Regions from separate parts of the Homo sapiens genome. Here region 1 is linked to region 2. Evidence: fine-mapped expression QTL. Tissue or cell type: fibroblasts. Region 2 holds a variant in brackets; the other region holds the start of a gene. All regions are shown on one strand. Distances are between the middles of the regions.

Region 1 (11,504 bases), 520 kb before region 2:
GTGGTGTGTCTGGAGTTGTTTGTTCCTCCCGGTGGGTTCGTGGTCTCGATGGCTTCAGGAGTGAAGCTGGAGACCTTCGCCGTGAATGTTACAGCTCATAAAGGCAGTGTGGACCCAAAGAGTGAGCACCAGCAAGATTTATTGCAATGAGCGAAAGAACAAAGCTTCCACAGTGCGGAAGGGGACGCGAGTGGATTGCCACTGCTGGCTCGGGCAGCCTGCTTTTATTCCCTTATCTGGCCCCACCCACATCCTGCTGATTGGTCCATTTTACAGAGAGCCAATTGGTCCATTTTACAGACAGCTGATTGGTCCGTTTTGACAGGGTGCTGATTGGTGCGTTTACAATCCCTGAGCTAGACACAAAAGTTCTCCATGTCCCCACTAGGTCAGCTAGATACAGAGTGTTGATTGGTGTATTTACAAACGCTGAGCTAGACACAGAGTGCTGATTGGTGCATTTACAAACCTTGAGCTAGATACAGAATGCCGACTGGTGCATTCACAATCCCTTAGCTAGACATAAAGATTCTCCAAGTCCCCACCAGATTAGCTAGATACAGAGTGCCGACTGGTGCATTCACAAAGCTTGAGCTAGACACAGGGTGCTGATTGGTGTGTTTACAAACCTTGAGCTAGATACAGAGTGCTGATTGGTGTATTTACAATCCCTTAGCTAGACATAAAGATGCTCCAAGACCCCACCAGACTCAGGAGCCCAGCTGGCTTCACCCAGTGGATCCCACACTGGGGCCACAGGTGGAGCTGCCTGCCAGTCCTGTGCTGTGTGCCCGCACTCCTCAGCCCTTGGGCGGTCAATGGGACTGGGTGTCGTGGAGCAGGGGGTGGCGCTCACTGAGCAGCCCACGGCAGGGGTGGGCGGGGGGAAGGCTCAGGCATGGCAGGCTGCAGGTCCTGAGCCCTGCCCTGCGGTGGGGCAGCTAAGGCCTGGTGAGAAATTGAGCACAGCAGCTGCTGGCTCAGGTGCTGAGCCCCTCACTGCCTGGGGCCAGTGGGGCCGGCCGGCTGGCTGCTCCGAGTGCGGGGCTGCAGAGCCCACGCCCACCTGGAACTTGCGCTGGCACGCAAGTGCCATGGGGGCCAGCCCCAGTTCCCGCCTGTGCCTCTCCCTCCACACCTCCCCGCAAGCTGAGGGAGCTGGCTCTGGCCTTGGCCAGTCCAGAAAGGGGCTCCCACAGTGCAGCGGCAGGCTGAAGGGCTCCTCAAGCACAGCCAGAGTGGGAACCAAGGCCGAGGAGGCTCCGAGAGCGAGCGAGGGCTGTGAGGGTTGCCAGCATGCTGTCACCTCTCACCACCACACCTGGTTAATTTTTGTATTTTTAGTAGGGATGGGGTTTCACCATATTAGCCAGTCTGGTCTCGAACTCCTGACCTCAGGTGATCTGCCCACCTCAGCCTCCCAAAATGCTGGGATTACAGGCGTGAGCCACTGCACCTGGCCCACATTGTGAAATTCTTGTATTGTGTTATTCAGCTCTGTCAGACCAATTAGGTTCTTTTTCATACTGGCTATTTCATCCTTCAGCACCTGTATTACTTTATTGTAATTCTTATTTTCCTTGGATTGGGTTTTGCCATCTTCCTGAATCTTGATGATCTCTTTGTTCCTATCCATATTTTGCATTCTATTTCTGTTATTCCAGCCAGTTCAGCCTGGTTAAGAACTCTTGCTGGAGAACTGGTGTGATCGTTTGGAGGACGTATGATACTCTGGCCATTTGAGTAACCAGAGTTCTTGCATTGGTTCTTTCTCATCTCTGTGTGTGGGTGTTCATTTGACTGCAACGTAGATTGACTACAGTCAACAGACTTCTTTTTTGGATGTTTTCACTGTGCTGAGGCTTTCTATAGGGTCTTTATTTGAAGCTGACTTCTTGTCTCTGGTTTCAGAGGTGTGTATGTTAGTGAAATATTTTTCGTGTTGAAGCTTTGGGGTGTGATCCTGCAGGTGACACTTAGGCTTATTGGTCAATTGGTAGACTCCTGCTCCTGTATGTTTCTTCACAGTTGCAGCTGTGTTCCCTCTCAGTGCTCCGAAAGTGTGGGTTCCTCTCCCCCTTGAGTGCTGGCTGTAGTTCACGACTTAGCACCCCTGGACTGCCCACTGCAGCTCTGGAGTGATCTGTGTTTATGTTCCTTCCCCAGCTTAGAAGTAGCAGAGGCTCATCTTAGTAGGTGCTGTGGCCGAGAGTCATTTGCTTGACTCCTGGGGGCTCTACCCCCAGAAAAATGCAGGTTACCAATTGCTCAGTGCAATCAGCCCAAGAAGGAGGGTTCGTGCTTTGGACCCAAGCCAGGGGTTGCCTGTCCAGTGAGCAGTGTGGAACACATGGGAGATGGACTGGTCTCCTTTCCTTGGGTCTACTGCAGCTTGTTGGTATGGAAAAGGCACTTAGGGTCTTTGCTCCTTCTTTAGTCCAAGGGTGGCAAGGGGAGTTCCACAGCAGAGGCAGTGGCTAAGACCCTTTCAATTGCCCCTGGAGGCACTGTCCTGGAAGTCGCTGAGTTGGTATTGGCTGGATAGCTCTGGTGGGGAGTGGCTGGAGGCCGAGGCCTGGAGGACCTGCCAGTGAGGAGATATGGGAATAGGCACCCATGAAACAGTCTGGCCACTTTTCTACAGGGCTGCTCTGGTATGCTTAGGGCCTGCTCCAGTCCCTAGTCACCTCAGATTTTCCAGAACTTGGAGGTGTCACCAGTGAAGGTTATGATACAGCAAATATGGCAGCCTGTCCCTCCCCCTGGGAGCTTTGTCCCAGGGAGGTATGGACCTGTTGCTGGCCCAAAGGCACCTGTAGGAAGTGGCTGAAGACCCTGGTTGGGAGGTCCCACCTAATGAAGAGGAACAGGATGGGGCACACTTAAAAAAGCAGTCTGGCCACATTTCTGTATAGCAGCTGTGCTGTGCTGGGGGTCCACTTCAGCTCCTGGTCACCTCAGACACTCTACAACCCAAAGGCTGGAAGAGCTAAGTCAGCCAAACAGCAAAGATGGCAGCCCATCCCTCCCTCTAAGAGTGCCATCCCAGGGGGAATTCAGATCTCTGTCACAGCTGAAGAGCTCAGGCAGGGTGGCTGGAGGCCCTGGTTGGGAGGTCACACCCAGTGAGTAGGAATGGGATTGGGCACCCACTTAAAGCAGCAGTCTGGCCACATTTTGGTAGAGCAGCTGTGCTGTGCTGGGGCATCCTTACCGCCCCAGGTCGTCTCAGACTCTCCAAACCCTGAAGGCTGGAACAGCTAAAGCTCCTGAACAGCAAAGATGTTGGCCTACCCCTCCCCTGGGAGCTCCTACTTAGGCAGGTGCTATGTTGCTACTGGTAGCTGGGTGGAATTCCAAGCCAGTGGGTCCTGTCTTGTGTGAGGTGTTGTGGAAGTGGGCCCTGCGGGCTGTTGCTGCTCAGCCCTCTGGATTCAGCCTCTTTCTTAGGGGTATGAATGGGAGTCTAAACTCCCTCTTTGTGGGAGATGCAGCTACTTTTGCCAGAACGCCCAAGTATCTAAGCCTCCAGGGTCTCCACGCATGCCTGAGTGGCTGCTTTGCTGAGACTCCATGTAGCCCTGTCTGCCAGACTGAAGACTGAAGGCCCTGCTGCTAGTGGAGTGGATTCACAAGGAGATCTCCTGACAGGAGGGTTGCAAAGATCTGTGGGAGAAGCATGGTTTCCGGGGTCGCTCATTCACTTACCACTTCCCTGGGCAGGGGAAGATCCCCTGGTTCCCTGTTGCTCCCAGGTGGGCTGTTGTCCTGTCTTGCTTTTCCTTGTTCTCTGTGGGTCAGGTTGTTTCCTTGATTAATCCCAATGCGAGTACCCGGATGTTTCAGTTGAAGGTGTTGTATCTACTCGTCCCTTCTGTTCCTCTCCGTGAGAGCCATGTACATTACCTGCTTCTGGTCAGCCATCTTGGCCACTCCCCATCCTTATGAAAGTTTACACTGTATTACAATTGCACAGGAAAGTTACTGCAGGTTTGGGAGTGGGACAGAGGATAGAGGATGTTGGCTTGTTTTGTCAAGAGAGTGACATTCTTAAGTCTATGTTGGTGGTGGGGACAGATAGGAGGCAAGAAAATCAGTTAGGAAATTATTGAAACAATTCAGCCCCAGATAATCGAAGCTTATCAAGAGCAGCAGTGTGAGAATGCAGAGAAGTGGACAGTTGCCAGAAACATCTCAGAGGTAAACATGGCAGGCCTGGAAGATGAAAACCTTCAGTGCCTGGCAACTGAGGGGTTGGAAATACTCCAATCTCAGAAAAGAGAATACTGGGATTGGAGGTGGGGGCCAAGCTGGGAGAAAGATTTCAATGTCTTGCAGAATATAGAGAGGGGTTGATGAGAATAACAGCCGAAGAGCCCAGGGGAATTCCCAGGTTAAAAAAAAAAAGCCCCACAGAGATCAGAAGGGCAAATCCTCAATCTAGAGCCACAGAAGTGAAGATTTGGCTCTAGACTCTGAAGTCAGCTCTCCTACGGAAAAAAGATGGACCCAGGCCTTTTTAACTCAGGCAGCCCCCATGGAGGAGAGAGATGGTCCTCCTCAGTTTCTGCACGTTCCAAATGAAAGGGTCCTTCTGTGTAGAATGAGAGATCTGGAGAGTCCTGGGTAAAATCTCAGACATAATTCTTTCTTCTGAGAAACCAGCTTTTTGCTTACTGCCTTGAGGAAAACCTTGTCTATCTTTCTTTCTTCCTCTTGTTTTCCCCCTCAGTAGAATCCTGTGAAAAGAAGTCTTTGGGTATCACAATGTGTAAAACAGTTAAGAATGTAGCCACTGTCTTGTCACAGTGGGGTCTGCGGACCTGGCCTCTCTCTTCCCGTCCTCTACAACCAAAGATTTCCTCTGCGCAGTTGTAAAAATGTGGAATGTCCTAATGCACATAAATAGGTCTGAGATTTTAAAATAAATGAAACAAATATAATATGGAAAGTCTAAGTGGATTCCCAAGACCATTTCCAGGTCTCCCCTCTATGTTTCTCCTTGAGGGTGTCTTAAACACAACATCTCACACATATTTTTAAGCGGAAGACAGTGGGCTGGGTGCGAACATCTTGTTTGTGGCCTCCTGTAAGCATTCTTGGAAAAAGAAACGTACTTGTCTTTCTGATTATAAAATAAGCAAAAGCTCAACGTAAAGAATTTGGCAACTCCAGAGAGTATAAAATAAGAAAACTAATTGGTAACTCCGACGCCACTCCAGAAATAAAAATGAGCATTCGCGGAGAATCCTTCCAGTCTCCTTACCGAGGCCGGCTAGGGACCTGAATCTGAAGCTCCTCGCCCCGGGGCCAGCTCCTGCGGCAGCCGCTGGCTCGAGGCCCGGGAAGGGGCGCTGAGGGGAAGGCGCCCCCCAGGGAAGGTCTCTGAGGAGACGGCCGGAGGCGGGGCCGCCCCAGGGGACTCGGCGGCGACGCAAGGAGAAAGATCCGAGGAGCTGGAGGAGCCGTGAGGCGCGTGGAGTCTGCAAGGTCCCGGAGCCCTCCCGGCCCTCGCGGGAGAGCAGGGTCGAGGCGCGCCACGCGGGCGGCGCCAGGGAGGGGCGGGCAGGCGTGGCTCAGCCAGTGCCCCGGCCAGAGGCGCCCGGCGCCCCGCGCACACCTCAGAGGCCTGCGCCGCCGTCCCGCCGCCTCCACGCCAGGCTCCCGGCGCGGCGATGGGCGCGGGCCCCTGTCTCTGCCCCGGCCCGCCCCTTCCCGCCCCTTCCAGCCCCGCGAACGCGCGAGACGCCGGGGGACCGTGGGCGTCCTGCACATAGCAGCGGGCTTGGCGCTTCTCGGCGGTCCGACGCTGATGAGGTGAGCACAGCGACCTTAAGGATCCACAAAACTTCAAACACTTAATTATTAAGTGAAAGTGGAAAGGGGGAGGGGCTTTCTCTCCCTTTCCAGAATCTGGGCAGTTTGTTTGGAACCGGTAAAGAAACTCTCATAGGAACTTGAGGTGAGCAGGGGTCACGCATCAGGGATGCGAGTGGCAATTTCAGTGGAAGAGACGGGAGAGTACTGTAATTTGGTGTGAAGATGGGGCCGTGGGTTTTCTGCTGAATAAGCGACCGGCTGTGCTGAAAATGAGAGATCCCGAAACAGTTTCCCACCGCCTGTAGACTTTCCAGAGTCTCCTCACGCCGAATCTGCTTTGCAGGGCATGTTCACCCCCAGGGTGTAGAGTGGCGGGCACGATGGGCTCCCCCATGGAGATTGCAAAGTCCTGAAAAGGGACAATTGTATTGCACTGCGTCTGTTGAACTGCCTTGCTTCTGGGCATGAGGGAGTCACCTGGAAGCTGCAACATCCTTGTACCCTGGCAAGCAGCCCTTTCCAAGTTAGCTCTGTCAGAAACTAGAGGCCTCTAGGTAGAACTCAAGGTATCCATGTACTCGTGAAGAATACAAACCTTGAGGTTTTTAAAATCGAATTTTGTTAAGATTTCAGGATAGAAATCTGGGAAGAGAAGTCATGGCATGGCATAACTTACCCCTTTGTTAGTTTTCTAGGTACATGCATGCTTGAATTAGAGGTAAATGATGCCCTAGCCTATCATAAAATGTCTTTCCTGGTGTAGTTCTTTAAACCAGAATATGGAGGATAACATTACATTTTTGCATCCTAGATAAAAGGGAAAGATTTTCAGATGGGGCTTACACAGCGGGAGAAATTGTTGATATAGTTGTATTAGGCAGCAAGGCCTGCAAAGAAAAACTTCTTTTTCTCCACCAGTGGCTGAATTCTGCACAGAATGTCTCCTCGCAGTCTGGGTAGCAGCCCGGCTTGCAAAAACAGTGCTTCTTTCATTGCTGCAGGTGGGGCAAATGCGCTTGCGGATAAATGGCTGGGGAAGCGTTTGCTTACAGGTTAAGGCAATTTGAGTCTGGAGAATAAAGTGCTTTAGCAGGCTGTGCTTGAGTTAGGTGTCCCTTGTGAGGAATAGAGGTGGCTTTCTGGTCCCCATTTTGCCAGCCTAATTCCCCTTCAGGGACACTACTGTCTCTGGAATGTTCCCTCTGTTTCCCCTTCTCTTCCACCCCCAGCTTTTAGCTTCTCCCCATTCCCCAGTAAAGTCTAGAATTGAGCCTGGTCAGAGTCAAAGTTCTGATAGCCTAGGGATATAGAACTTCAAGCCTGGTGAAGGCAGAAATGAGACCTAGGAGAGACCCAAGATGGGTGAGATGAAACAACTTTCAGCCTAGAAGGCTCTCAAAAGAGTGGAAAAATAATGATTGAGGGAAACAGATTCTCTGGAAAGGAGAATAGGTGCTTAAGTGTTTGTTTTCAGCTGAGGGTTTTAATATTTCCATTTTTGTTGTTTAACCATAAGGGAATTTCCATTATAGGGTAGGAGGAGGATGAGGCCTTCTCTGAAAACTGCATCCTTCTCCTTGAATTTGCATTTTATTCCATTCTTATGTAGGTTTCAGAGATTAATTGGGGGAAGGGGGAGAGAGGAAAGAAGCCAGAGGCTCTGACATGCTGCAGAAACAGTGCAACGTGGACTGACTTGGGCTGCAAAGGTGGATTTGGGGGTTGAAAGAAATGTTCTACATTTAGTTGAAAAAAAAAAATCAGAGCCTTTATTTTGCAAAGGTCTTGAGAATCAGAACATTCATGTTTAGTTGCTGATGAATTTTGCCTGATAAAGGATGCAAATCACTATCTCACCTTTTTTTCTCCAGTACTTTATTATGAAAAATTTTAGACATACAGAGATGTTTTCTACCTCTCATTTTATAAACTTATTATCTTAAAACAAACTTGTTAATAAAAATCAGTGTTTAGAATCCAGACATATGTGATCTGGTCCTGGACAGAGCTTGAATCAGAAGGTGTTTCAAATATAGATGTGTGAAGGATATTAACATTTTAAGAAAAAAATATGGATCTTATTCTTCTGACTTTCCCATAAGAATCTTGAGCAGACCCCTTAACTGCCTTCTTTTTCCCATTCTTAAAATGTCAGTCAGTTGGATGATATTACTCTCCTGCTTAACACCCTCCAATGGCTTCCCCTCACACTGTGAATAACATTCAACTCTCCACCAGGGCTTGTGATTTGGTCTGGTGCCCTCATATTCTATGGCCGTCCTCTTGCTTACCATCGTCCTTGCTCTTCCCTCTGCCTGAACACTCTTCCTTCAGACACTGCCACTGCTTCTTTTCTCAGCTCATTCCAGTTTCTTTTCATACTCTCCAGAATGATGGCCACCTGATCTAAAACAGCCTGTGGTCACTCCCTGTCTTCTGACCCTGCTTTATCCTTCTTCATGGCACTTAGCACTCCCTGACACTATATAGTATATGTGTTTCCTTGTTAATTGGGCATGTTCCCCACTCTAATGTAAACTCCATCAAGACAAGGAATTTTTTTGTCTTATTTATGGCTGTGTTCCTATTTGGTATATTATGAGCAATTAATAAATAACTGTTGGATTAATTAGGTAACTAAATTACACAAATAAGGCATTGACTCCCATAAGGGTGGCAGAACCCTTGGTAAAATACTAGAAGTCCTTTGAGGTAATTCATAATTCAAGTTAATCAATATTTGATAGGTAAATGATGACCCTGGAGATCAGTGGCCTCTTTTATCCTCACAGCACTTCTCAGCTGAATCCTATGCTAATAGCTGGCCAGTTTTGACAAACCCACATCCCAAACAAGACATAAAATATTTCAGTCACAGAACTTTTCCTCACGTCTCTTTCTAGTCACCTCCACCCCACAGAAGCAGCAAACCTTGTTCTGATTTCTAATATCATAGATTAGTGTTGCTGGTTCCTGAATTTCATATAACTGCAGTTACACAGTATGCACTCTTGTGTTTGGCTTCTTTTTGCCCTACACAATGTCTGTGATATTCATCTGTGCCATTGTGTGTATCAGTAGTTCATTTCTTTTTTTTCCAAGGTAGTATTTATTGTATGAATATTGACCATGTGTTTATCTGTTCTCTTGTTGATAGATACTTGGTTGTTGCCAGTTTGTGGCAATTTTGAACAAAGCTGCTGTGAACCTATAAAGGGTCTGCCTCATCTTGAGTCTTCTCTACTTTATATGAAAATCTTCCTTGTGCCACCAATGCAGAGAGAAGTATGGCAAGGTTATGGGGGCTGTGACTGATGTAGCAGCTTGCATGTACCCCAGCCAGTGCTCTCTCTAGACAGCTCTGCTGGGAGCTGACCTGCTTCCCACTTTAGAGGGAAAGCACTTGGAAAATGAGTGTCTAACAAATTAGCGAGCCCTCCAGTGCACTCTTAAGTGCTTTAAATCCTTGAAAGAGACACTGTGGAATGCCTGCTGCCATCACTGTTGTATTTCCCTCCTCCTCTCAGCTTCCCCATCCCAGCACAAGTTGACTCTAATCAGCTTCTGAGCATTATGCTACTGAGGGGTTTAAACATTCATGAGCAAGAGTCTTGTTCAGAGCCTGATAAAATATTCATGTGTTTCCATGGGGCATTGGTTTCCATCTAGACTTCTCAAGGCATTTTTCTGAGATGCATGTCGTAATTGTGAAGAACTCAGACAGTGATGGATGATACGGCCCTGTGTTATTAAACCCTACCACACAGAGCACCTTGCTTTCTAGGGATGGAGAAGAATGAGCACACAGAAAAATTGACATTAATCCTGTCTAGATCAAGAGAAAGGCTACATGTACTGATAAAAATGGCTTGAGTAAAGAGGGGCCTGTTAATATAGTACCAACAAAGGTATGAATCCATAGAGGAGAGTGAAAAGAACTTGTTAAAATGAGAGGAATGCTGGGATGCAGTCATTCCAAGTGGAAGAATGGGGGAATCAGCATTGTAAAATGCACAGTTCCTTTGACACTCATGTGGACGAGGTTCATATGAGACAACTGTGCTGAGTGCTGTAATTATCACAACCTGCTATGAGAGGATGAGAGTAGAAGTGGAGGCTAGGCAGGGTTTCCAAGTAGAGCCAGAGAGCTATTCCAAGAGGAGTCAACATTTCTCTTCAAGGAAGAAGTGGCTTTGAGTCAGGTTCTGAAGGAGGTGTGCCTCTTTGACTGGCAGCTGCGGTGTGGAAGGGACTTTCCAGAGAGACAGAATAGCATGATAGAGTGAGGGCCAAAGTGCCGGTGTGGTGTGAGTAAGGAGAGAAGGTGGGTGGATGGGGGTCAGGGCAGGGTTGCAGCAAGACATAAAGCAGGAGAGCTAAAGGCCAGCTTATGAAGGCCACAGGAGGATGGACTTCAGTCTGTTTGCTGGAGGGCCGTGTAACTTTTGGCCAGAGATTGGGTTACATTTTGAGGAGTTCTTGGGAAGTATATCCACCCTAGGCAAGGCCTTGAGGTATGTTTATGTCCAAGGCATTTCCAGAATATTCTGCTGTGTCCAGAACACTATGAAGACTCTACGTGGTCTACTCTAAGAGAGGTAAACCAGAGGAGGTCAGATATACTCAGTATACTCCTGGGACTGACCAGAAACAGGCCTCACCAGGCACCTCTCTGCCCCCAGCACACAAACACTCAGAATATTCTGAGTCAGATTGAATCCACAGCATTCCCTAGACTTCTTCATGACCACTTTGCCTCAGCTGGGGGAGTTGCAATGATCTAAGTATCCCCTTATCACCTGAATCTGGGCCAGGATACCTCAGACATGGGTTGCCAGGCAACTGAGGGCTAAGTGATGCAGCTGGCCAATCATCCCCACAAAGCCCAGGTCTGCTTTGACCAGGCCATCGGGCTGTGACCAGAGAGGCAACTTGGGGGGTTGAGGTCATGCAGACTGATGACTTGTGGACACAACTGCCAGGCCCCTTCCATATGTCTTCTTCCTTTGGGTTGCAGATTTCTATTCAAAAATGCCTCAGGATGTTGATTTTTTAACCCATAATAAAAATAGTGAAGTAGGGAGGAGTGTTAAACATGTCAGTCATCTATACCTTATGTTGTCATTGGGAAGAAATAACTGTGGAAACAATTGTCCCGGGAAAGTCAGTCTTCAGTCTTGCAGTGAGGAGCTTTGCATATGTGGAGATTAGCTAGAAAGCTCTGGAGTTCTGATGGTGAGAAGGGATTTCTTGGGTCAAGGATAGGAAAGGGCAAGGGAGGACCTTCATGATTCTCCCCAGGGCTTTGCTGGTTGGAATTGCTCTTCTGCTGCCATGGGTAGCATGGGGTTTCAGTGACTGAAAACACCCAGGAAAGTATGCTCTGGGTCTTCATGTTGCCATCTGCCTACACTGGAATGTCAGACCATCAGTCAGCACTGCCAGCTCTCCATCTTGATTTTCTAAGAGTTATTGAGAAAACCTTGAAAGGGAAGGCAGAAGTGGGTGTCTTAACTAGGGAAATGCCAAGGTCCTAAAGGTGTGGTCTAGGTTGAAGGTGTGGTAAGGGCCTGAAGTCATTGGTCTGGCAGTACTTCAGACCAATAAAGTCTTTCTTGGCTCTTATCTAAAATATTCCTGATTTTCTGTGTGAGGTGGAATCTCTCAAGTGCTGCATTAATCAG
Region 2 (11,504 bases):
GTTGTATTTTCTCAATCGTTCACATGTTATTTCTTCTTTGATCCAAAGGTTATTTAGAGATACACTGTTTAACTTCCAAATGTTTGGGGATTTTCTAAAAATATGTATCTGTTCCTGATTTCTAAGTTAGTTGTTTCTGTGGTCAGATAACATATTTTATAAGATTTCCATTGTTTGAAACATATAAAGATGTTTTGTGGCTCAAAATATGGCTTATCTTGATAAATGTTCCATGTACACTTGAAAAGAATATGTATTCTGCTGTGGTTGGGTATAGTGTTCTGATTAGTGTTAAGCAAAGGTATGTAGTTTTGTTAAAATCTTCTAAACTTTACTGATTTCTTGTCTAATTGTTCTATGCTATTGAAAAGAAGGTGTTAAGTCTTCAACTTTGGAGATTTGTTTACTTCTTTTTTTGTTAGTTTTGCTTTGTGAATTTTGAAGCTCAGTTATTAGGGGCATAAATGGATAAGACTATTTGGTTTTCATTTATTATTTTTATGAGATATCCTACTTTATCTTTGGTAATACTGCCTGCTTTGAAATTTTTTTTTTGCCAGCTGTAGTAATAGAACCAGTCTAGTTTTCTTATGCTAAATATTTTCCTGTTGTATCATTTTCCACCTATTTACTTTCATTATCACTGTTTTTATATTTAAAAGTGTCTCTTGTAAATCATATGCTTGGTTTTGCTTTTCTTCAAAACAATTTTAAGAAAAAAAAAACAAAACAAAAAACCATTTTGACACCTGTGCCTTTTATTTGGAGTGTTTAATACACTAATATTTAATGCATGTTAAAGTTGAGTTGAGGTGTATCATTTTGTGATTTATTTTCTATTTGTCCCAACTTGATTTTAGTCTTATGTTTCTCCTTTTTTTTCCTTTTTCTGGGTTAGTTTTTTCGTATTCTCAGTCAGCCAGGGGTATGTGGAAAACTTGTCTCAACCCTTCCAGGATCTCCCCATTAGCACTCTGGTTGGTTTGCTGCTCACCCCAACTGGGACTGCATCCTTGGGCTAACAAAGCTGTGGCCTTTCCCTATTCATTTCTGAGTTTGCTACTTTTAGTATATGCAAAGTCACAAAATTTCATGCCACTTCTCGACCCTAAATATTGAAATTTAAAACTTTATAAGTATTTCTCCTCTGGCAGAAGAGCCACTGGGTTTTTGGCCAACTCCAAACTGGAAAACTACGATTCTTGCTGATTGAGCTTGATGGGAGGTGGGGGAAAGAATTAGCCTTCTGCTGTTTCTCCTTGAATCTCTAGGAGCTTTTCAACTTGCTGCCCATCTCTAGTAGATTTCTAGTTCCCTGGATGCTTTTGTCAATTTTGTCCAGTTGTATGGTTTTTTTTTTTAGTGGAGGAGTATTGCTGACCTCTTCATTCTGACATAATTGAAAGCTGATTTTATAGATATGTTTTAATAAAATATCTTTAATTTTTATTAAAAATAAAAGAAACAGTGAAAAGAACATTTTTGCTTCTTCTCTGAAACTTCTGTTGGAGGTTTCTTAAGCTGTCGAATGTCTTTTGTACAAGGATAAATGGGATAAATTCCTTTTAGGATGTCATACAGAAGGCCTCTCCCTTCCTTTATGACTTACTTGGTTCCTTGATAATAACATTCACAAGTTGAATCACAAAAAGTTAAACGTTTATAAGGAATGAATGTTATAAATTAGAATTATGTCCTTGAAACTCATTTCATACCGTAATATGCCAAGACATAATAAATGATCTCTAAAACCACACACATGTTTACTTTTACAAACATTAAGTATGTAGAATTTCATTCAATAAATACCTACTAAGGGATTGATAGGTGCCAGAGACTGGACTGGCTAAGCACTGCAAATGAAAACAAATGAACTCACTAGGTACAGCTGCTGCCCTGCCCTCACACGCCAGTGAGAGAGACGATTACGCAGGAAATTACTATCAAGTGTGTTATTGAGGAAGTACCAAGTGTTATGACTATGTCCAGTATCAATGTTTTCTCACACATTTTTTTTCTTTGAAATTCTTTATGCTTTACAAAGAAAATATAATTAGAACCTGGACTGAAGACATATCTTCTGTAGTAAGTCTGAATGGTAAATGCTTGGAGAGGGACAATTTCCTTGGGAAACACGTCATCTATTCTCAATTTGGAATGTACATTAAATCACTTGGGAAACTTTAAAAAAAAAATCCGTTTGCTTGGGCTCCCCTTCTAAAGATTCTATCTTAATTGGCCCGAGGTGAAACCCAAGAAGCACTTTTTTTTTAAAGTACTCAGGTGGTTTTCGCATGCAGCCACAGCCAAGAACCACTGTAGTCCTCACTTCCAGTTTCCTCATGTGCCACCTATCATAAAAGGTGCCTCCTTCAAGATTGCAGCTAAGTTTTCTGGGAAGTTCTTCTGCGCAATACTTATGGCTTCCTTCTACTGCACTAATATCTGGTAGGGAGGGAGCCCTTATTCTCAACACCTCAAGTTTCTACAGAACATGAGGTACTCATTCCTATCCCTTTCTTGCTGGAGGGGTTAGGGGAGGGGCAGATGATAGCACATCCATATTCTCTCTGTCTCTTATTGTTCCCCAAATGAGACCGAGAAACTCATCTGATGGGTTAGAGACTGATATCCACTGCGCCACTGCCTATACAGTGGTAGGTGTGGTCGTTTTCCTTATAAGCAGGAAACATGCTCCACCTATTTCTCTTTTGTCCTTTATCCCTTTGTGATAGTAAAATTAGCTAACTGGTGCTTATTGGGTATTTACCGTGTGTTGCCTGCTAAGCTTTTTATATAAATTGATTCATTACATCCCGACATCAACCTCATGAGGTACAACCTATGGTTATACCATTTTACACATGAGGAGGCTAAGGCTTAAATAACCCAGGGATTAAATAACCTGTCTGACACACTGAACTTGGACTGTGATTTCAATCCGGACAGTCTGGGTCCAGAGCCTGCTCTCTTAACTTCCATGCTACTGATGGCAGTGGCCACATCAGACGGTCTGCCACTGCCATCACACTGGCTGCAGCAGGGAGGTGCAGCCAAGGCTGCACCCTCCATGGAGCTGGTGGGAGCTAGGGACAAGCAGGAGCCCCGCCCCTTCTGAGTTGGGGTGGGAGCTCCCCCGGTGCCACTGCAGCCACCCAAACCATGGCTGTAGACCCTGGCCTCCCACTCCACAGAGCAGGCAGGAGCCTTGCCCTCCCAGCAGGGCTTCAGCCACCCAACCGTGGCTGCAGATGTGAGCCTCCCTTTGCTCTTGGGGGACTGGGAGCAGGCAGGAGCCTGCTGCTGGGCACAGCTGCAGCTGCCCAAACTGTGGCTGCAGACTCAGGCATCCCTGAACTCTTGGGGGCCCTGGAATGTCCCCCTACCCTAACAGGCTTGCAAGTGCCTGCTCCTGCTGCCTGGCTTCTCCCCACTCCTGGTGCATGTTCTGATTGTGGAGCAAGGTTGGGGCCGAGCCAGGGCACTGTCACAGGCCAGCAGGGTGGGCGCACGTTCAGGGCAGTGCTGACATGCCAGCCCCCTGCTGCCTTGGCCCCCTCCTGTCTTTGGGCACTGAAGAGCACAGGAGGGAAGCTGAGGGGGTGCTGAGGGCAGCTCAGCACTGGCCTGCAGGCACCCCTTTGCAGGAAGAGCCTGGGTGCCATGAATGACAGGGGAGGCAGACAGCTCCTGGGCAGAAGGGGGCAGGGCCTCAGTGAAGTCCCACCTTCATGCCAAGAAGGCCTGAAGCCTGGGCGCCGGGCTGCCAGTCCTGCTGCCTGGAGGGGGAGCTTATATCCCTTTTTCCTGGGCCTGCCCATGGCTACCCATGGACCAATCAGCATGCACTTCCCCTCTCTGAAGATCAAAAAACCATGGACTCAGCCAGAGCAGAGGAGATGTCTGAATGACCAGTTGCAGAGAGGCGCTACCTTCTCTGCTGAGAGCTGAATACTCATCCTGATGACCTGCCTGCAGAGAGGAGCCACCCACTCCATTGCCTCCTTTTTGCTGAGAGCTGAACACTCGACCAGATGACCTGCCTACAAAGAGAAGCCACCCACTGTGGGTCTCCTCTGAGCTGTTGTAACACTCAATAAAGCTTCTCTTCATCTTGCTCACCCTCCACTTGTCTGCATACCTCATTCTTCCTGGACACAGGACAAGAACTCAGGCAAAGGCCCCACTGTCCACGGAGGTATCCAGCCAGAAAAGCAACACTCCAAAGATCCCATAACCCTACTATATTGCTAGGGTTCTAGCTGGCTTTTGTTCCACAATTGGTAAGCACAGTTGAAGGCCATTCACTCTAACTCAGGGGCTTGCTGGCATTCTCCACTCCCCTATTAACTGAGTCTATAATCCTCTGTGCAGTTTGTTGCATAAAATCACTCCAAGTATTTGTAAATACAACTCTACCCTCAAGTGGGTACCAGTGGCCTAGAACTGAGTAGGAGGATGGGAGTTAGCAGTGGAAGCTCCTCCTGAACTAACAATCAGGCTCTAACATAATTTGTCTGGGAGTTCTGCACTTCAGGAACTTAGAATTCCCAACAATTTTGTGCTAACAGTTTCGCATCCTAAAGAGATCCTTTACCCACACTGCACACTTTCCTTTTGGATTTTACCTTGCCTCAAGCTAAAGCACTGCCTCTCTTTACAATGATTCACTATATCTGATTACGCATCCATACAAAAAGTTTTCTGCCTCAGACAGTTCATTGTGATTTTGTATCGCTATTGATCGTACTAGTCTAGCCCCAATTCACTACATGGCTCCAGTCACTATGACCACTTGGCTTTAAATGTGTGTTTTTATTGTCACTATAGGTGTTTTATTTTCAAAAGCAAAAATTAGAAAAGTTGGAGCATTTTAACTCAAGCCATTATAAGTAAAAGATTGCCGGTATCAAGAAAAAGTTTTCCTCTCCTAGTAAACTTCAATTAGTCAATGAGAATTGTATAACAACTTGTATTTTCCTTGACTGTCTAAATGCAAAACATAGTTTTAGAAGTCTACATAAGGATAAAGATTTTTAAAGAAAATATCATATTTTAAGTTTCATTACACATGTCCTTTATTAGAAGCTACTTTAAATCCTTTTTCAAACATGAATTGATTTTAATTAAAATAAAATTTTACTGGAACACAGTCATGTGCATTCATTTCTGTGTCATCGAGTGCTGCTCTTACCCTACAACGGCAGAGTTGAGTATGCAGTTATGATGGCGACCATCAGACCCGCAAACCCTAATGTAGTTACCATCTGGCCCTTCAGAGAAAGTCTGCTGTTCCCAGCTGTATAGCATTCCCCTCCCACCTTCTATCCCATCAGCCCAACCTAACTCACTTGTCATTTTGTGTTCTCGATGGTTTATTTCAAAAGTGAATGATATAACCTTTACCTAGCTCAGGTTAGCCTTTTTCAAAGAACAAAACAAAATTTAGTTGCTTCCTTACTGGTGCAGTGTTTTTTGTCAGTGATCCTCAGGGGGAAAAAAAGGTGTCCCAATCCTAGTTTTGCTAGGGCAAGGTGAACCCTTTCAAGTTTGTATAATTAGTTTTTTTAAAAAAAAACTCAGAAAATTAATTATTAAACTCTGATTATTGTTTCTATTTTATTTGTTCTGGTTTCTTCTTCAAGAACTCCGATTGCTGTGGGATAGGTCATCTACAGCTAACTTCTGTCATTTTAATCTCTTTGCCCATTCCTTCCCATCCCATGTTGGATCACTTAATAAATGTGTTGCCAACATTATCAATTTTATTCTCTGCTGTGGTATTTCTGCCCTTTTCACTGCATCCAAATGAATGTGTAAATTTTGTTGCTGGATTTTAAATCTTTTTATATTTTTCCCATCTTAGCCCACTTCCTTTTCTTTTCAGCCTGCATCTATTTTTTGACCTTGTCTGTTATTATTTCCTACTTCAGTTTCTGAAAAGACCCTTTCTTTTTGACTCCTATTAAAAACACTCAGCAAATGTTTCTGCAATTTTCCTTGTTTCTTACAGTAAGATATTCTCTAACATAAGCTTTGTTTTCAGAGTAGCATACATTTTCCTCTATAAATTCATT[A/G]CTTGGACTCCATGTTGATGTTTTTGTTCATTTACTGTTTTCTTTTTTCCTATTTGACAGTCTTTGAATCAGGAAGAATCCTCCTGGAATCCTGATGCTTGTCAATACACAGGATGGGCAGATTGCCTTTCAATAGCACCATCTCTATGGCTGTTGCATGAACACACTTCTTAGATCTAAAGCTCAAAGGTGGGTTGATGTGCCACTGTAGAAGCAGACCAAAGTATAGTTTTCTGTTCCGATGGAGATGGACACTTGGGTTTCCAGTTTGGGACTATTGTGAACACCACTACTATAAATATTTTTGTCATGCCTGTTGGTGCACATACTCATGCATTTCTGTTGAATATATATCTAGGAGATAAAATCCTGAGTCATGGAATATGCACATTTTCAGCCTTAGTAGATAATGCCAATGTCCTGTGAATAGTGAACCAAAACTACTTGGAAAAATATTCCACAACATTTCCTTTTGTTTGATTCAACAAACCAGCACATCCTCATAGTTAACAAAATATTGAAATGAGACATAAGAAAATGTTCTCTTTAAGTAGGGCATCTAGAAGACACTGAAGAGAATGAAGCTTTTTCATTTGATTATTATTATTGAAAATCATTTTAAATTATTGGATGTTTAAGGAAAATAAATCTCCTTTCTCATGAATCACACACTGGCAAGTTTATGAGCAGTGCACACCTTGGGAGAAGTGCAGACTATTGGAATTATTTATGATGATTCGTACAGCTTCTTTTACAAAAAAATCACAATCTGTAAAAAAGAGCAAAACAAATGTTTATGATTATGTCATCTTTTAGAAACATTATCAGATCAATACATGCAAAAAATTCCTGTGATACAGTGTGTCTGAGCCCTAGCTTTGAACTCAGACAGCCCCACACATATCCCAGCTCTGCTATTTATAAGCCTTATGGATCCAGATGTTTCTTACTTCACAGTGTGTCAGTTTCCAAATTCTAGCACTTAAAAAAATCTGTACATTAACTGGGTTGTATACATACATCATAAAAAAATAAAAATACAAAAGAATGTCAACATGAGAAAGGTAAATCTCTTTTCCCCTGGTGTGAACTCCAGTCCCCAGTTTCCATGCCTGGCAACAGCTACCTACCAACTTCTTATTGACCTTTCCAGAAATATTCTCTGTATACTGCAGGCATAATGTATATATATATATGTATTTGTTTGTATATATACATATGTATTTCTAACTTTTAAAAAACCATGTATGCCTTTATTTCATTACTTGCCCAAATATTACTGGACCATAAACAGAATAGTCAGACATGTACAATAATAACTAAGCTTACCATCTTTGGTTCTTGCCATCTTTCAATTACATAAAGCCCATAGCTGCTTACCCGTTTTTCAATGTTATCATCTCAAAGATATGTTTGTGAAAGTAGGTGGGTAGAATAAATTTTATATAACAGTATGTTAGCCTAATTTACAACTTTATATATTTTCATATGATATGATGCTTCAATTCATCCTCTTGACCTGGGTCTTGCAAATACCAGGAGCAGCCCTGCTTATGAATGTCCTGAAGAGCAGTTATCCATGGAACAATTGTTTGGGAAAAGTTGATATGTAGACACTGGAGGTCATAAATACCGTTTCTGATTCTCTTTCCATTTTACTTTGACTTACTGCCAACATCCTTTACTATTTCATTTATTTACTTTAAACTGACAAAGAAAGATTATATATATTTGTCAGGTACAGCATGATGGTTTGAAATACGTGCACGTTGTAGAATGGCTCAGTCAAGCTAATTAACATATGCACTACTTCATATACTTTTCATTTTTTGTGGAAAGGGTGCTTAAAATCTCTCTTTGCTATTTTCAAAATATAACACATTGTTATTAAATATAGTCACCACGGTTTTACAATGCATCCCTTGAACTTACTCTTCCTAACAGAAATTTTGTATCCTTTGACCAACATCTCCCTACCACACTAGCTTCTGGCAACCAACATTCTACTCTTTACTTCTATGAATTCAACTTTTTTCTACTCTACATGCAAGTGATAGCATATGTGTATGTGTGTGGATGCATTACACCTGGTTCATGGCATTATGCTGGTATTTCTGTGCCTGGCTTATTTCACCTAGCATAATGCCCTCCAGGTTCAGACATGTTGCTGCAAATGACAGGATTTCCTTCTTTTTTTTTTTAAGGCTGAATAGTATTCAATTGTGTGTATACCATCATCTGTTGGTGGACACTTAGGTTGATTTCAAATCTTGGCTATTGTGATTAATGCTGCAGTGAACATGGGAGTGCAGATATCTCTTTCACACACTGATTTCATTACCTTTGGATATACACCCAGTTGTGGAATTGCTGGATCATATGGTAGTTCTATTTTTTATTTTTTGAGGACCTCCATAATGTTTTCCACAATGGCTGTACTAATTTACATTCCCACCAACAATGTGCAACGGTTCTCTTTTCTTCACATCCTCCTCAACACTTACTTTTTGTCTTTTTGATAATAGCCATTCTAACAGTATGAGGTGATATCACATTGTGGCTTTTGTTTGCATTTCTCGAACGATTAGTAATGTTGGGCATTTTTTTCATGTATCTGTTGGCCATTTGTATGTGTCTTCTTTTGAGAAATGTCTATTCAGGTCCTTTGCCCATTTTTTAATTGGGTTATTTATTTTCTTGCTAATGAGTTGTTTGAGTTCCTCACATATTTTGAATATTAACCTCTTACCAGATGTATGGTTTGTACATATTTTCTCCCACTTAGCAGGTTGTCTCTTCACTCTGTTTATTGTTTTTTGCTGTGCTGAAACTTTTTAGTTAGATGTAATCTCTTTTGTCTATTTTCACTTTTGTTGCCTGTGCTTTTGAGTCATATCCAAAAGATCACCATCCAGACCAATGTTAGGAGCTTTTCCCTTATGTTTTCTTCTCGCAGTTTTACAGTATCAGGACTTATGCTTAAGTATTTAATCCATTTTGAGTTGGGTTTTGAATATGGTGTGGAGAAAAGGTTCTAATTTCATTCTTCTGTATGTAGATATCCAGTTTTCTCAGCATCATTTATTGAAAAGACTGTCCTTTTCCCATTGTGTGTTCTTGGCACCTCTGTCAAAAATCAATTGACCACAAATCTGTGGGTGCATTTCTGGGCTCTCTATTACATTCCATTGGTCTGTGTGTGTAGTACCATGCTGTTTTGATTAGCATAGCTTTGCAGTAGATTTTTAAGTCAGGTAGTGTGATGGCTTTGTTCTTTTTGCTTCAAGATTGTTTTAGCTATTTGGGGTCTTTCATGGTTCCATATGAATTTTAGGATTGCCTTTTCTATTTCTGTGAAAAATGTCATTGGAATTTTGATAGAGATTGCATTGAATCTGTAGATTGCTTTAAGTAGCATGGATGTTTAAACAATATTAATTCTTCCAATCCATGAACACAGGATATCTTTTCATTTAATTGTGTCTTCTTTAATTTCTTTCATCAATGTTTGATAGTTTTCAATGTACAGGTCTCCTTGATTCAATTTACTCCTAAGTAAGTATTTTATTTTTTTCCTTGTAGCTATTATAAATGGGATTGTTTTCTTGATTTCTTTTTTGTATAGTTTGTTGTTAATGTATAGAAATGCTACTGATTTTTGTATGTTGATTTTGTACCCGTAAATTAATTACTTTATCATTTCTATTAGTTTTTTTGTTGGAGTCTTTAGGGTTTTCTATATATAAGACCATGTCACCTGCAAAGAAAAACAATTTAACTTCTTCCTTTCCAATTTGGGTGCCTTTTATTTCTTTCTCTTGCCCAACTGTGCTGGCTGAGACTTCCAGTACTATGTTGAATAGAAGTAGCAAGAGTGGAGCATCCTTGTCTGTTTCTGATCATAGAAGAAAAGGCTTCAACTTTTTACTGTTGAGAATGATGTTAGTTGTGGGTTTGTCATATATGGACTTTACTATGTTGAGGTACATTTGTTCTATAATGAATCTGTTAAGAGTTTTTTTTGTCATGAAAGAATATTGAATTTGTCAAATTTTTTTTCTGAATCTATTGATAAGATCATGTGATTTTTGTCCTTTATTCTGTTAATATGGTATATCACATTTATAGATTTGTGTATGTTGAGCCATTCTTGCATCTGTAGGATGAATCCCACTTGATCATAGTGAAAGATCCTTTTAATTTGTTGAATTTAGTTTGTTACTTTTTTTGAGAATTTTTGCATCCACGTTAATCAGGGATATTGGCCTGTAATTTTTCTTTCTTGTAGTATCCTTGTCTAGTTTTGAAACAAGAGTAATGCTAACCTTGTAAAATGAGTTTGGAAGTATTCCCTCCTCTTCAATTTTTTTGGAAGACTGAAATTTAAACATTTGGTAGGATTCAGCAGTGAAGCCATTGGGTCCTGCCTGGGATTTTCTTTGATGAGAGTCTTTTCATTACTGATTCAATCTTCTTACTTATTATTGGTCTATTCTGATTTTCTATTTTCTTCATGGTTCAATCTTGATAGGTTGCATGTGTCTAGACATCCATTTCTTCTAGATTGTCCAAATTGTTGGTATATAATTGTTTATAGTAGTCTTATCTTTTGCATTTCTGTGGTATCAGTTGTAATGTCTCCTCTTTCACTTCTGATTTTCCTTAAGTCTTCCCTCTTTGGCCTTAAGTAGTCTAGTTAAAGGTTTGTCAATTTTATCTTTTCAAAATACCGAATTTTAGTTTTGTTGATCTTTTCTATTATTTTTCTAGTTTCTATTTCACTTATTTCTGGTCTAATCTTTATTATTTCTTTCCTTCTACTAATTTTGGGTTTCATTTGTTGTTCTTTTTTTAGTTCTTTGAGGTGTAATATTACGTTGTTTACTTGAGATCTTTCTTCTTTTTCGATGCAAGCACATATTGCTATAAATTTCCCTCTTAGAACTGCTTTTGTTGCATCCCATAACTATGTCTTGTGTTTCCATTTTCATTTGCCTCAAGGTTTTTTTTTTAATTTCCCTTTTCATTTCTTCTTTGACTTCTTGTTGTTCAGGACCATGTTGTTTAATTTCCATGTAATTCTGAATTTTCTGAAATCCCTCCTGTTACTGATTTCTATTTTATATACCACAGTGGTTGGAAAAAATACTGGCTATAATTTCAATCTTCTTAAGTTTGTTAGGCTTATTATCAGTCATCAGTCTTGGAGAATGTTCTGTGTGTATTTGAGAAGAATGTGTATTCTGCTGCTGCTGGATGGAATATTCTATATATGTCTGTTAGGTCCATTTGGTCTAAGGTGTAGTGTAAGTCTGATGTTTCTCTATTGATTTTTTGTCTAGATGTTCTGTTCATTGCTGAAAGTGGGATACTGGAGGTCCCCACTATTACTGTATTACAGTCTAGCTCTCCCTCCATATCTATTAA

The links. PIP is the estimated chance that this variant, and not a neighbour inherited with it, causes the effect. A credible set is the group of variants that fine-mapping cannot tell apart.
Region 1: it holds the start of GPR156, and the variant in region 2 is the best candidate, but not a certain one, in a credible set for the expression of GPR156 in fibroblasts (GTEx, PIP 0.81).

What each region holds. Positions count from the first base shown.
Region 1 is chr3:120,279,342-120,290,845 of GRCh38, reverse strand. It overlaps GPR156 (G protein-coupled receptor 156), which reads left to right and starts at 5,624. Exons shown (of 10, transcript NM_153002.3): 1 at 5,624-5,817. It overlaps LOC124909418 (a long non-coding RNA gene), which reads right to left and starts at 5,690. Exons shown (of 2, transcript XR_007096029.1): 1 at 3,709-5,690; 2 at 123-2,584.
Region 2 is chr3:119,760,394-119,771,897 of GRCh38, reverse strand. It overlaps CFAP91 (cilia and flagella associated protein 91), which reads right to left. Exons shown (of 18, transcript NM_033364.4): 18 at 4,796-6,846. Among named protein-coding and RNA genes, the nearest start is that of NR1I2, 16 kb to the left of the region's middle. The variant A/G (reference allele first, on the strand shown) is at 6,078.